2 linked regions of the Homo sapiens genome follow. The protein of the gene in region 2 purifies or fractionates together with the protein of the main gene of each other region. This does not show direct contact. Each region holds a gene or a part of one and is shown on either strand. Other genes may lie near its edges. The genes, in order: EIF2AK1 and DELE1.

What was found.
Region 1: the proteins of DELE1 (region 2) and EIF2AK1 purify together in Homo sapiens (affinity purification with mass spectrometry; 3 studies listed by BioGRID and IntAct, with this or other methods). This does not show direct contact.

What each region holds. Positions count from the first base shown.
Region 1 is NC_000007.14:6,041,968-6,049,241, reverse strand, and holds part of EIF2AK1 (eukaryotic translation initiation factor 2-alpha kinase 1), read left to right. Parts: intron 1-397; coding exon 398-435; intron 436-2,150; coding exon 2,151-2,250; intron 2,251-2,887; exon of another isoform or gene 2,888-2,956; intron 2,957-3,090; coding exon 3,091-3,171; intron 3,172-4,580; coding exon 4,581-4,680; intron 4,681-6,248; coding exon 6,249-6,309; intron 6,310-7,274. UniProt on the Homo sapiens protein: Metabolic-stress sensing protein kinase that phosphorylates the alpha subunit of eukaryotic translation initiation factor 2 (EIF2S1/eIF-2-alpha) in response to various stress conditions.
Region 2 is NC_000005.10:141,919,394-141,927,074, reverse strand, and holds the start of DELE1 (death ligand signal enhancer precursor), read right to left. Parts: upstream 3,205-7,681; 5' UTR 3,134-3,204; coding exon 3,103-3,133; intron 2,495-3,102; coding exon 2,380-2,494; intron 1,666-2,379; coding exon 1,548-1,665; intron 1-1,547.

The sequences.
Region 1 (7,274 bases), on a different chromosome or scaffold from region 2:
ATGGGAGGTGGTACAGGATTTTGATTAGAGGAGTGACACAATCTGACTTACATTTTAGTGGGGTCACACTGGCTGCTGTGTTGCGAATGGACTGAGGGGGCACGGGCAGAAGCAGGGTGCCAGGTGCCACCATACACGCGAGAGAGGTGGGCAGGCAGGAGGGGTGGGGAGCTCCTGCATGGATTTTGAAGGTGACGTCAGTCTTGTCTGCTTGCTGGTCTGTTCTCAGCTTTGAAGTATTTTCAGTTGTAAACTCTTAAGTAATACTGAAAAAGCCAGTGGTTTTTAAAATATTGTTTATGCATTTGGGGTTGTTAATGTGATATTGAATTTTGATAGGTTCTTTATTCCATGCAAGTTTTCAAAATGCTTTTTAAAAACAATTTTTTAATTGTAGGATCCTTGTGAGGATATTTCTCGTATCCAGAAAATCAGGTATGTGTGAAAAACTTTCTTGATTATGCAGACTATTGAAAAGAAATCAAAATTAAGAAAATACTGATTTGAGGTTAAAACATAATATTGTTAGTATTATTTATGAACATTAAAAACTTTGTTCTCAGCAATTAAGTACTGCTCTGAGACTTGCTTTGCTTCTTATTCCCTCCTCTTTGATCCCCTGCCTCTCGCCACTGAGTGTGGATTCCATGGTCACACTGTTAATTCAGATTCCTGATACCCAGGCTCTGTTAGGGGGACCATTGAATTCTCGCTAGTTTAAATACTAGTTTAAAATCTAACTGGTCTGACCTAAATATTCATCAGCCCATGAATAGATAAGCATGTGGTCTATCCCTGCAATAAAGTGTTATTCAGCTATTAAAAGGAATGAAGTACGGATTCATGCTACAATATGGATGAATCTTGAAAACATCCTAAGTAAAAACAGCCAGTCATAAAAGGCCACATATTGTGTGATTTCATTTCTATGAAATATCCAGAGTAGGTGAATCCATAGAGACGTAAATAGTGGTTTTCAGGGAGTGGGGTAAGGGAAGGATGGGGAGTGAAAGCTAATGGATATAGGGTTTATTTTGGGGGTGATGAAAATATTCTGAAATTAGGTAGCAGTGATGGTTGCACAACTTTATGTACTAAAAACCACTGAATTGTACATTTGAGAGAGGTGAATTTGACAGTATGTGAATTATATCTTGATAAAGCACTCTACATTAAAATAAAAATCTAATTGGTCTACATCATTAAGAAATTTAAGAAGCTGCTTATGGTGGTGCATACCCAGTCCCAGCTACTTGGGAGGCTGAGGCAAGACGACTGCTTGAGCCCAGGAGTCCTGGGCTGTAGTGCACTATGCCAGTCTGGTGTCCACATTAAGTCTGGCATCAGTATGGTGACCTTGATCTCCCAGGAGCAAGGGACCACCAGGTTGCCTAAGGAGGAGTGAACTAGCCCAGGTTGGAAACAGAGCAGGTCAGTACTCTGGTGCTGCTCAGTAGCAGGATCACACCTGTGAATAGCCACTGCAATCTAGCCTGGGCAACACAGCAAGACCCTGTCTTAGAAGAAAAATAAATAAAAAAGAAATTTCAGTAATTTTTTTTTTTTTTTGAGACAGAGTCTTGCTCTGTCACCCAGGCTGGAGTGCAGTGGCATAATCTCGGCTCACTGCAATCTCTGCCTCCTGGGTTCAAGCAATTCTCCTGCATCAGCCTCCGGAGTAGCTGGGATTACAGGCACCCGCCACCACACCCGGCTAATTTTTGAATTATTACTAGAGACGGGGTTTTACCATGTTGGCCAGGCTGGTCTTGAACTCCTGACCTCATGATCTGCCCTCCTCGGCCTCCCAAAGTGCTGGGATTACAGGCGTGAGCCACCATGCCCAGCTGAAATTTCAGTAAATTTATTTCTGAGCTTAGCTAACCAACTGCTGGCTGTTAGTGATTCTTAGGATTTCTGCTGTACAACATCGGTAATAATTTCTACTTGGAATACCCGTTACTGGTAAAACACCTGATTTTGTTTTCTTCATAGGGATGAAAAATTTCATTTTAGCCCATCCTTTCCAAATCAGCACAGCTTAGTGATACATGAGGTTTGTGAGGTTAGTAATCCTGTGAGCATGAGGTATCCTAGAACATTTTGATTCTCTCATGTTTTAATATTGATTGTTTGTATTTAACTTTCAGATCAAGGGAAGTAGCCTTGGAAGCACAAACTTCACGTTACTTAAATGAATTTGAAGAACTTGCCATCTTAGGAAAAGGTGGATACGGAAGAGTATACAAGGTTGTCTTCCACGTACTTGTTTTGACCTACTACCCTAAATAATTGTGTTTTCAGATATTGTTTTCATTATTCTTTTATTTATTTATTTTTTTGAGATGGAGTCTCGCTCTGTCGCCAGGCTGGAGTGCGCGGCGCAATCTCAGCTCACTGCAACCTCTGACTCCCTGGTTCAAGCGATTCTTCTGCCTCAGCCTCCCGAGTAGCTGGGATTACAGGCATGTGCTACTACACCCAGCTAATTTTTGTATTTTTAATAGAGACGGGGTTTCACCGTGTTGGCCAGGATGGTCTTGATCTCCTGACCTCGTGATCCACCCACCTCGGCCTTCCAAAGTGCTGGCATTACAGGCATAAGCCACCGTGCTCGGCCTGTTTTCATTATTATTATATAATGTACTCAAAGGAAAATTCCAAGAAATCTTGTATATTTACTTTTCTTTAACATTTGTCATGTACAGGGAAGTGGGCAGTTTGTAATGTTTTTCTAACCGTGTTGATTGTTTACATGGATTTTGGAAACTTTGAATTTTTGACCTATAGTTAATTTTAATTAAAAAATGTGTTACCAAAAAAAGTTGTACTACTGTGTTTTGAGCTAACATACACCTTTTGCTAACATTCCCGTTCTTCAGCCTAGAGCTTCTTAGGAGCTAGACTTCCAACACTATCTGAAAAGCTCTTAGTCCGGCTGACTTCCCTGAACATAGTAAGGAGACATGTCTTTAGCTATATTTTACCTCTTTGGCTAGTTTGGATTGTCTAAGCTCAGATTAAAAGAACCTCTTTATTCAGTTAAAGTTTAATGACACAATATACTTTGTCTTTTTTTCTACTTTTCAGGTCAGGAATAAATTAGATGGTCAGTATTATGCAATAAAAAAAATCCTGATTAAGGGTGCAACTAAAACAGTTTGCATGAAGGTATGATTTTTAAAAATTACTTATTTTGAATAATTGTGTATTTAGTTCTTTTTGAAAGAGTTATACATGTATATGTGTATATTTGGCAAAAGTAGGCGGTGTGGATTTCCAGTTTACTAGGAATGGGGTTATAGTAAAGTACCAAAATTAAATTATTATTATTTTTTGTTTTGAGATGGAGTTTCACTCTTTTGGCCAGGTTGGAGTAAAGTGGCGTGATCTCGGCTCACTGCAGCCTCCGCCCCGCAGGGTTCAAGGATTCTCCTTCCTCCCAAGTAGCTGGGATTACAGGCATCTGCCACCATGCCTGGCTAATTTATATATATATATATATATAATTTTTAAAATATGTTAACTTCTTAAAATAAATGATCGATATATAATATAGCTAGTTATGAAAAAACAGGAGCCCAGTTCCAGGTCAGTCTTCTCCCTGACATGCTGTGTGGTTCTGGACGAGTTGTCCAGTCCTCTGAGCCACTTCTGTCACCTGCCCTGAAATAGTAGTGACGGTAGTGATTTTACTTACCTTGGAGGACTGGGGTAGGAATCAAAAGAGAGAATGGTGATAAGTGTGCCATAAAAAGTATAAAATGCCCTATAAATATGTTATTTAGTTGCTATAACAATTGCCATTTGTTTCTTAAAAATATTTCCATTATATTGGCCAGGTGCAGTGGCTCACGCCTGTAATCCCAGCACTTTGGGAGGCGAAGGCAGGCAGATCACTTGAGGCCAGGAGTGTGAGACCAGCCTGGCCAACATAGCACAACCCTGTCTCTACTAAAAACACAAAAATTAGCTGGGTGTGGTAGTGCATGCTTGTAATCCCAGCTGCTCGGGAGGCTGAGGCACAGGAATGACTTGAACCCAGCAAAGTGATTGCAGTGAGCCAAGATGGCATCACTTCACTCCAGCCTGGGCAACAGAGTGAGACTCTGTCTCAAAAAAAAAAAAAAAATTTCTATTATTTTAACATAGTGTAGATGCCTTGTACAGAGGAGTTTTCATTACAGATGGTCCTCCATCTTATGATGGGATTATGTCCTGATAAACCCATCATAAATTGAAAATATTGTAAATTGGAGATGCATTTTAATATGCATAACCTACCGAACATTATAGCTTACCCTGCCTACCTTAAATGTGCTTCGAACACTTACATTACTCAATAGTTGGACAGAATCATCTAGCACAAAGCATATTTTATAATAAAATACCATATATCTCATGCACCGCATACTGCAAGCTGGAGAAAAGATCAAAATTCAAAGTATGTCAAAAATTGTGATGTCTTCATACCATTGTAAGTCAGGGGCCATCTGTATTTTGCTCTGGAACAAGAAGTATTGCATAAACATTTAACAAGTTATCAGCAAAAGGCAGATCTACTTCCATTTCTTTTCTAGGTCCTACGGGAAGTGAAGGTGCTGGCAGGTCTTCAGCACCCCAATATTGTTGGCTATCACACCGCGTGGATAGAACATGTTCATGTGATTCAGCCACGAGGTAAGCCGTTTTTGATGGTATGGTAGTTGAAGCGTTGGCAAACTTTAGCCCGTGCACCAAATCTGGCCTGCCTTTGTTTTTGTACATACCACAAGCTGAGAATGGTTTTTACATATTTTTTTTTGAGACGGAGTCTCACTCTGTCGCCCAGGCTGCTCCGCCTCCTGGGTTCACACCATTCTTCTGCCTCAGCCTCCTGAGTAGCTGGGGCTACAGGTGCCCGCCACCACGGCCAGCTAACTTTTTTTTTTGGTATTTTTTAGTAGAGACAGGGTTTCACCGTGTTAGCCAGGATGGTCTCGATCTCCTGACCTCGTGATTCGCCCGCCTCGGCCTCCCAAAGTGCTGAGATTACAGGCATGAGCCACCGCGCCTGGTTGGTTTTTACATTTTTAAATAGTTAAACAAAATCAGAAGATTTTGTGAAAATTATGTGAAATTATTTTTTTCTTTTCTTTTTTTTGAGACAGAGTCTCGCTCTGTCACCCAGGCTGGAGTGTAGTGGCGCGATCTTTGCTCACTGCAACCTCTGCCTCCTGGGCTTAAGTGATTCTTCTGCCTCAGCCTCCCGAGTAGCTGGGATTACAGGTGTGTGCCGCCACGCCTGGCTAATTTTTGTATTTTTAGTACAGACAGGGTTTCACCATGTTGCCCAAGCTAGTCTTGAACTCCTGACCTCAAGTGATCCACCTGCCTCGGCCTCCCAGAGTGCTGGGACTATAGGCATGAGCCTCTGTGCCTGGCCCAAAATTTAAATATCAATAAATAAAATTTATTAGAACACAGGCTCTTCATTTATATATTGTCTATGGCTGCTTTTTAAATTTAAAGTTAGCTGGGGGCAGTGTGGCTCATGGCTGTAATCCCAACACTTTGGGAGGCCGAGGCAGGAGGATCACAAGGTCAGGAGTTCGAGACCAGCCTGGCCAATATGGTGAAACCCCATCTCTAATAAAAATACAAAAATGAGGTGGGCATGGTGGTGAGCACCTGTAGTCCCGGCTACTCGGGAGGCTGAGGCAGCAGAATCACTTGAACCCGGGAGGTGGAGGTTGCAGTGAGCCAAGATCGTGCCAATGCATTCCACCCTGGGCAACAGAGCGAGACTGCCTCAAAAAAAAAATTACATTAAATTTTGTTTTAAAAATAGAGATGAGGAATCTCACTATATTGTGCATGCTGTTCTTAAACACCTGAGCTCAAGTGATCCTCGAGCCTCGGCCTCCCAAAGAGTTGGGATTACAGGCATGAGCCACTGGGCCTATGGCTGCTTTTATACCATAACAGAATTGTTCAGTTACAGCAGAGTCCCAGAGGGCCCTAAAACCTAAAATATTTACTGTCAAGTCCTCTGTGCTGTTTGCTGACCCCTCGTATAGTTGCATGGCTTTGTTTTTACGGTTCCTAACACGTGCCATTTGAATAAACTTTTTGTATTTTGCCAGAAGGTCATGACATTTTTAGACTTGTAGTCTCATTTGACACTATTTGTATATTTTAACTCTGTCTTTGACTACAATTTGAAAAACTGGGCTGTTTGAAGATGATTGTTGTTTGTTTTCATTCAGCAGACAGAGCTGCCATTGAGTTGCCATCTCTGGAAGTGCTCTCCGACCAGGAAGAGGACAGGTATGTCCTTTTACATATTAGGACATTACCTCTTGTCACCTGCATTGGGCTTTTGTTCTTTTTTTTGGCGACAGAGTCTCGCTCTGTCACCCAGACTAGAGTGCAGTGGCACAATCTTGGCTCACTGCAACCTCCGCCTCCTGTGTTGCAGTGATTCTCCTGCCTCAGCTTCCCGAATAGCTGGGACTATAGGTGCCCGCCACCACACCCAGCTAGTTTTTTGTATTTTTAGTAGAGACGGGGTTTCACCGTGTTAGCCAGGGTGGTCTCGATCTCCTGGCCTCGTGATGTGCCCACCTCGGCCTCCCAAAGTGCTGGGATTACAGGCGTGAGCCACTGCACCTGGCCTGCACTGGGCTATCTTTGTCTTTTGCTACAAGGAGCTCAGGAGGAGTGTTTTAGACTTTGCTTATTTCCGTTACAAAATGTTAAATTATTTCTTCCTTTCAGATATTTCCTGTCGGTATTTTTTTTTTTTTTTTGAGATGGAGTCTCGCTCTGTCGCCCAGGTTGGAGTGCAGTGATGTGATCTCAGCTCACTGCAACCTCTGCCTCCCAGGTTTAAGCGATCCTCCTGACTTAGCCTCCCTAGAAGCTGGGATTATAGGCCTGCACCACCATGCCTGGCTAATTTTTGTATTTTTAGCAGAGACGGGGTTTTGCCATGTTGGCCAGGCTGGTCTCAAACTCCTGAACTCAGGTGATCTGCCTGCCTTGGCCTCCCAAAGTGCTGGGATTACAGTTGTGAGCCACTGCACCTGGCCTATTTTTTATTATTTTTGTTGAGACAGGATCTTGCTCTTTTGTCCAGGCTGGAGTGCAGTGGTATGATCACAGCTCATTGCAGCCTCCAACTCCTGGACTCAGGCAATCCTCCCACCTTAGCTGCCTGAGTAGCTGGGACTACAAGCTTGCGCCACCATGTCTGGCTAATTTTTGTATTTTTTGTAGAGATGGGGTTTTGC
Region 2 (7,681 bases):
CCAAGAAGGAAACTAATCAGAGAGTTACACAGAGCATAAAAGGGGTCCTGACAAGACAAGGAGTCAGGGAAAGCCTGTCTGTGGGGGTGACGTGTGGGCTAAGGCCAGAAGAAAAGGCACCAGCATTGTGAAGAACAGAGACAAGTATCCATGGTACTGAGGACAGCTTGCGTGCAGACCCTTTCATATGAGCAGTAGTGACAGAGCACAGGGATGGCATTGGGACTTCTGGAATCCAGGCCCACTTCCTACTTCTCACTATGGGACAGCCCTAGGGCTCAGATCTTCTTTGGCAACATGGGAAAATGCTCCTCTCTTCAGGGTATGATATGGCCTTAGTCCACAGCTCCCCATAGAGGGGTAACCCTGTCATGGAGACATCCCAGGCTCAGCTCTGCTGATGACACCAATTTACAGATGAGAAAGCCAAGGGTCACACAGGTCAAGTCATTTGTCCAAAGTACACAGCACGAAAGCAGCAGGGATGAGCTGTGACAAACATGAGAGTGATGTGTGTGTCAACTTCATTCAGAAGATCTTATAAGCAGAACTTCCACCTGGAACATTGCCTGAAAAGCGAAGACTCTGCCCTATGAGACCTAGTGTTCACTAGTAAGAATCTGACCTTATAGATCAGGTTCAACAAATATTTTTGAGCAACTATTACGGGCTAGGCTCTGTATTTGATGCAGCAACCAAGCAGTAGAACATGAACTCCAGAGTTAAATCTGGCTCCTCCACTTAACAGGTATGAGACCCTACGCATGTTACCTAATATTTCAGAGCCTGAGATTCCTCAGCTGTAAAATGAAGGTGATATTTCCCTTGTAAGATTTTTGTAAGGATTACACAAGATAATGCATGTATAATACTTTACATTAATAAATAATGCTATAAGGCCGGGCGCGGTGGCTCACAGCTGTAATCCCAGCACTTTGGGAGGCCGCGGTGGGTGGGTCACGAGATCAGGAGTTCGAGACCATCCTGGCCAAAATGGTGAAACCCCGTCTCTACTAAAAACACAAAAATTATCCAGGCGTGGTGGCACGTGCCTGTAATCCCAGCTACTTGGGAGGCTGAAGCAGGAGAATTGCTTGAACCCGGGAGACGGAGGTTGCAGTGAGCCAAGATCATGCCGCTGCACTTCAGCCTGGGCGACAGAGAAAGACTCTGTCTCAGAAAAAAATAATAATTTAAAAATAAAAAAAATGAATAATAAAAAAAAGATGCAATGTATTATTATTTATTGTAAGATCCATGAAGGCAAGAATGTATCTATCTTGTTCTCTGCTATGTCCGTAGTGACTAGCAAAAATGCCTGGCCCAGACAAGGTGTTACATAAATGTTTACTGAATTAAATGAGGAAAACATACATGGCGGGGGTGTGGAAAGTGGCAATATCTCCTTGAATATGCTCCAATACCATGGGTTACTTGTTAAATGGACACAGTGATTCCCTAGCCCTTGTTCCAGGTTCGGCTGTATACCCATGAAGGATCATTCTCATCTACACTGAAGGTCAAGGACCAGGCTGGGGAAGCCTTACCCAAGATATGGCATCCCATAGGGTGTTCGGGGAGACACGGGAAGACATCCATTGGAAGGCATCCTTCCATCCATGGGACCTTGGACCCCCGCTCGTGCCTGGGCCATGGGGACCTGACCTAGATGATGAAATAAGAGGCTATCAAGTAGGGGCAAAGGGAGACCAGGGACTGGGTGCGGTGGCTCACACCTGTAATCCCAACAATTTGGGAGGCTGAGGTGGGTGGATCACGAGGTCAGGAGTTCAAGACCAGCCTGGTCAAGATGGTGAAACCCCATCTCTACTAAAAATATAAAAATTGGCTGGGTACAGTGGCTCACACTGTAATCCCAGCACTTTGGGAGGCTGAGGCGGGCAGATCATGAGATCAGGAGATCAAGACCATCCTGGCTAACATGGTGAAACCCCGTCTCTACTAAAAATACAAAAAAAATTAGCCAGGCGTGATGGTGCATGCCTGAAATCCCAGCTACTTGGGAGGCTGAGGCAGCAGAATCGCTTGAACCCAGGAGGCGGAGGTTTCAGTGAGCCAAGATCGCGCCACTGCACTCCAGCCTGGGCGACAGAGCGAGACTCTGTCTCAAAAAAAATAAAATAAAATAAAAATTAGCAGGGTGTGGTGACGGGTGCCTGTAATCCCAGCTACTCGGGAGGCTGAGGCAGAGAACTGCTTGAACCTGGGAGGCGGAGGTTGCAGTGAGCTGAGATTGCCCCACTGCACTCCAGCCTGGGCGACAGAATGAGACTCCATCTCAAAAAACAACAAAAAAAAAAAAATAAAAAAAAAGGGTGACTAGGGGAGGAAATGAGTGGTAAAATGGCAGTATCTTACCTGTCGAGGTTAGGCACAGGAACCAGCAAAGTGGAGGAGGTAGTCTGAGGCCCATCTGGGCTGGTGGACTTAGGAGTCACCCTCCAGAGGCTAGGTCCCAGTGTACGGGGAAGAGCTGTACAGAACAACCAAAACTCAGGCACCTCAACAAGAACCCAGGAATCACTGTCATCTGCCTCAGCAGAGGTTCTTAAACATGGATACACATGGGAATCTTTTATCTACTACAGATTCTAGGGTAGTACCCCAGAACCAATAAACTAAGATTTCTCAGGGTAGAGCATCCACGTTTTTTAAAAGCGCCCATGTGATTCTGCTGGTCTCCTGTGGATGCCAACCACTGTTCTAAGATGACCAAACGTTCATACATATACTCTCACTAATGTTTGGGGCTCTTTGACTCTAAACCTCTCCTCTCTTCACTGGCTATGCCTACTCCATTGGCCCCTAATCCTCTTTCATTCATTCAGTCCACCATCTCCTGCCATTGGACTCCTCCCCCTCCCAACAGTCCTACCAACTTCTTGGACTCCACCCTCTTCTAGCTAGGCCCATCCACATCTCAAATTCCAGCAGCCCCTGACTTCCCCGCCCTCTTTCAAGCCCCGCCTTCCTTGGCTCTAACCCGGCCCACGATCGCTTCGGCTGTTTCCTCGGGCCCGCCCCCACTCCAGTTCGGTCTTTGCGGCCCAGAGTGACGCTGGTTGCTTGGACGTCCCTTACCTCGGCCCAGGAGTCCCGGGAGGCGCCACATGTCGCTGCCAGCACCACAGAGAGCTCGCAGCCGAAAGCGCGAGACCAACCCTTGGGACAGCGGCTAGAAAGGCCGCCGCGATGCCCCGAGTGGCCGAGTACCCGAGGAAGCTCTGAGCTGGCCAATTAGAAGGGAGCCCGGCCGGAAAGACGGCGCTGCAGAGAGGAAGTGCAGGGCGGAGGCGTATTCGGGGCCAGCGGGGCGGTGACGTGCGGCAAGGGCATGGGGATGTGGGCCCAGGCTTCCGTGGGGGATGTCCTTGGCGTTCCCAAGCCGAGGCAGGGGACCGCAGGTGGCGAAGCGAGCCACCCGGAAGCGGGACCTTCGGGAAGTGGGGCTGGAGCGGCTTCAGGGAAGTAAGAGGACCTTGCAGACCGTGAGGCCGCGAACCAGGAAAGGCTTCTCCAGGCCCTAGGCTTGAGGAAGTGGGAGTAACCAGGCTCCATGGGCGGAGGAGAGGACCCCCGGGGTCCCACAAATGAAGCCAGTAGGCCGGGCTTCCGTCCAAGGCCACCTGCCTGGAGATGCCAGGCCAGGGCCCGACTGCGTAGGCGATGAGAAACCGCACAGGGCAAGGCTTTGATTCTGGGTTCTAGCTCCGGTCCAGCTTTATCTCACTGTGCAGCTTCATGCCAACCCCTTACCTTGTCGGGGCCCCAATACGCGCCAGATAGGGTCAAATGGAATGACTGGCCTGACAAGCTGAGATTCTTGGGTAGCTCCTTTCAAAATACCTGAGACACCACCCGCGCCCTATTAGAACCCTCGTCTTCAGACGTGGCAAAAGTTATGTATGTGTTTGTTCTTTTGTGGAAAAGAATAGTTCCGTCTGGTCCCGGTGGCTCACGCCTGTAATCCCAGCACTCTGGGAGGCCGAGGCGGGCGGATCACCTGAGGTCAGGAGTTTGAGACCAGCCTGGCCAACATGGTGAAACCCTGTCTCTACTAAAAATACAAAAATCAGTTGCGCGTGGTGGTGGGCGCCTGTAATCCTAGCTACTCTGGAGGCTGAGGCAGGAGAATTGCTTGAACACGGGAGACGGGAGGTTGCAGTGAGCCGAGATCGCGCCTGGGCGACAGAGTGAGACTCCATCTCAAAAAAAAAAGGAAAAAAAAATAGTTCCTTTCACCACATTTGAATCCGTGAAATAACGGAGCTTACATTCAAGTATAAGATGTTTAGATTTCCTCCCTATCCCCTTCCTCCAGGTATGTGACTTTAAGGTGAGTGGAAGTTGCTACCTGGGGTAAAAGTGTACTGGGGGCACCTACTTTTAGACCGAGGCATGTGGCTTGAAAGTTGTATTAATATGTTAGACAACTTTTTTTTTTCTTTTGAGACGGATTCTCTGTCGCCCAGGCTGGAGTGCAATGGTGTGATCTCGGCTCACTGCAACCTCTGCCTCCCAGGTTCAAGCGATTCTCTTGCCTCAGCCTCCCAAGTAGCTGAGATTACAGGCGCCTGCTACCACATCCTGCTAATTTTTGTATTTTTAGTAGAGACAGGGTTTCACCATGTTGGCCAGGTTGGTCTCGAACTCCTGGACCTCAGGTGATCCTCCTGCCTTGGCCTTCCAAAGTGCTGGGATTACAGGCTTGAGCCACCGTGCCTGGCCGTTAAAGAACTTTTGAGCCATATATCAGCCCGTTCTAGGATCTGAGAAGACAGCTGAGGAAAGAGCATTTGTGGCCTCCAGGAACACGGTCCAGTGGATTAGTAGTGGGCTTTGGAGTCCCACAAATCTGGGTTGGAATCACAGCTTGCTTACTTCGTAGGTATGTTATCTTGTGCAGGTTCCTTAACCACACTAAGTCTCAAGAGCTTCATCCGTAAAATAGGGAAAATACCTCATGCAATTGTTGTGAGGTTTAAATAAAATAATATGTTAAAAATGTTTAACTTGGTGTTTTGGGAATACCCTTCAAAAAATAAAAAATAAATAAATAAAAATGTTTAGCATAGTTCCTGGCACATAGTAAAAGCCCAGTAAGTGTAAGTTGCTATTAATTATATTAGTAGGGGAGGTAAGCAGGCAAGTGTAATAGGTTAGGTTCCCATAGAAGCATGAACAATGGATTGTGGGATCCCTTGGAAGGCTTCAGAAAAGTAGTTGCATTTGAGCGGGGCCTTTAAATGTGAATAAGAGCTTGCCAGGTGGAGAAGGAAGAAAGGCATTGCAAGCGGAGGAAACAATAAATAAAGGCCCAGAAGTTTGAATGTTGGACAACTATTCAGAAATAGCCTTGCTTCGGGATTTGGGACGGCAACCTTTCACATTCCTTGTGTTGCTGTCCCGAAAATAAAGTAACAAACAAGTATGCTGGTTTGGCTGTGTTCTTCCTCCTGCGTCTTTTGTACCCTCCTTCCTTTCAGACTATCCATAGTTTGTGTCATTTCTCAAGGTTCAGCCCAATCCCAGCTCTTCAGTGTAGACTCCTCAACTGTTTGAGCCCTCCCTGCTCCCTACTTTTCCCAATTCCTATAGCACTTAATTTCTTACTACACAGTTTAGCAGTAATTATATGCTGTCTTGGTATTTATCTCATTTGTGTAACTCTAGCCTTCCCAGTTCTCTCCTTTCAGGACAGGAATAGCATTTCCCTATTCCGTGTCCCACATAGGGCTTGACATAAATTGTCAGCCCAAAGAATATGTCCAAACAATCCCTGTTGACAGAACATCTTGTACTAATGATTATTACAGCCAAGGGTACCAGACCCCAGCCAGGGGATTTACTGATTTGAGTGGAAATGTATTCATTGCAGATACAAACATTCATTGAGGGCCCTCCCTGTTTGAAGCTAGTTGAAAAGTTTTGAAGGAGAGACTAGGACATCTGCCCCCATGTATAGAATGGCATTATGGCATCTCTTGTCCCCATAAACAGAAACATCAGACCACTTGTGTGAGGGTAGATGGCGAGGGTGGCTGGAGCCCACAGCAGATCACCTGTTGAGTGCAGCTCACGGGAGTGCTGTTGGTTGAATGGCAGCTGCCTCAACTGCCAGACCCCAAACTCTGTGGTTTTGGATTGTGGCTCAGTCCCTCTACACAGTCCCTCAAGTTGACTCAATCCTCCACAAAGGTAAACTGACACTGGGAACCTATTGCCTGCTGTCCAGTTAATCACCTTTCATGATGACTACACATGCCATTGTGTACTTTGTGTACTGTCACTACAGTGAGTATTCTAGATACTTGTTGCCTTCATTTTTGTAGGCATTCTTAATTTGCATTAATCAAATATATGACAGCTTATTTAGTGCTAAAGGATATGCTAAGTATATAACAATTTTAAAACATGGATGTGGGCAGGGCGCAGTGCCTCACGCCTGTAATCCCAGCTCTTTGGGAGGCCGAGGTGGGTGGTTCACGAGGCCAGGAGTTCAAGACCAGCCTGGCCAACATGGTGAAACCCCATCTCTACTAAAAAAAATACAAAAAATTAGGCGTGGTGGTGCGCATCTGTAATCCCAGCCATTTGGGAGGCTGAGGCAGAAGAATCACTTGAACCCAGGAGGCAGAGGTTGCAGTAAGCTAAGATCGCACCATTGCACTCCAGCCTGGGCGACAGAGCAAGACTCTGTCTTGAGGAAAAATTAAAACAAAACAAAACAAAACATGGATGTGGTCCTTGCCCTCACAGAAAATAGCCTAGGAGTGCAAACAAAGTCAGTAAGCAATTAAAATACAGAGTGGTGTTTTAGTTACTTATTGCAGCATAACAAACACCCCAAAATTGAGTGGCTTAAAACAATCATTATCTCTCACAGTTCTGCAAATTGACTGGGCTCAGCTGGGCAATTCTGCTGGTCTCACTTGGGGTCTCTCATGAGGTTGTAGTCAGATGGCAGTCATATGAAGACTCAAGTAGGGCATTGGAAAGGCTGGGCCTCTTTCTCCATGTAGTCTCAGGTCCCCTCTGCGCCACATGACCTCTCCAGCTGTGTCGCTGAACTTCTTACACAGTGGCTCAGAGCTTCCAAAAGTACACAAGTGGAAGCTGGCAGGAACTGGCATAGCATCACTTCTGCACTCTGTTGGTTAAAGCAACTCACAGGGTCAGCCCAGAATCAGTGTGGGAGGGGAAAACATAAGGTCACAAATACTGGGAAGTAGACTTTGGAGACAAGCAAGTGCTGTTGTGAAGAAAGTACAGAGTGCTATGGGAACACCCAGGGAAGGCCCATAACCTAGGCATGGAAGTCAGGAAGACTTCCTGGAAGCAGTGATGCTAAATTAACCTGAATGATGAGGCCTGGAAACTAACCAGGTGAAGAAGAGGAAAAGAAACCCAGTTCAGGCAGGGGACACAGCTGACTGATACAAAGTTCCAGAAAGGCAAAGAAAGCACAGTTTAAGATCACTGTAGCTGGAGCCGGGAGGGAGGCATGGAGTCATGGCGATGGGGTGGTGATAGGCCTTTAGTCTGGAGAGGTAAATAGCGCAAGGTCATAACGCCTTGTAAGCCCGTAAAACATTTGGACTCTGTCCTGAAGGCACGAGACATCTAGGAAGGGTTTTGGCAAGGGAGTGACCAGGCCAGA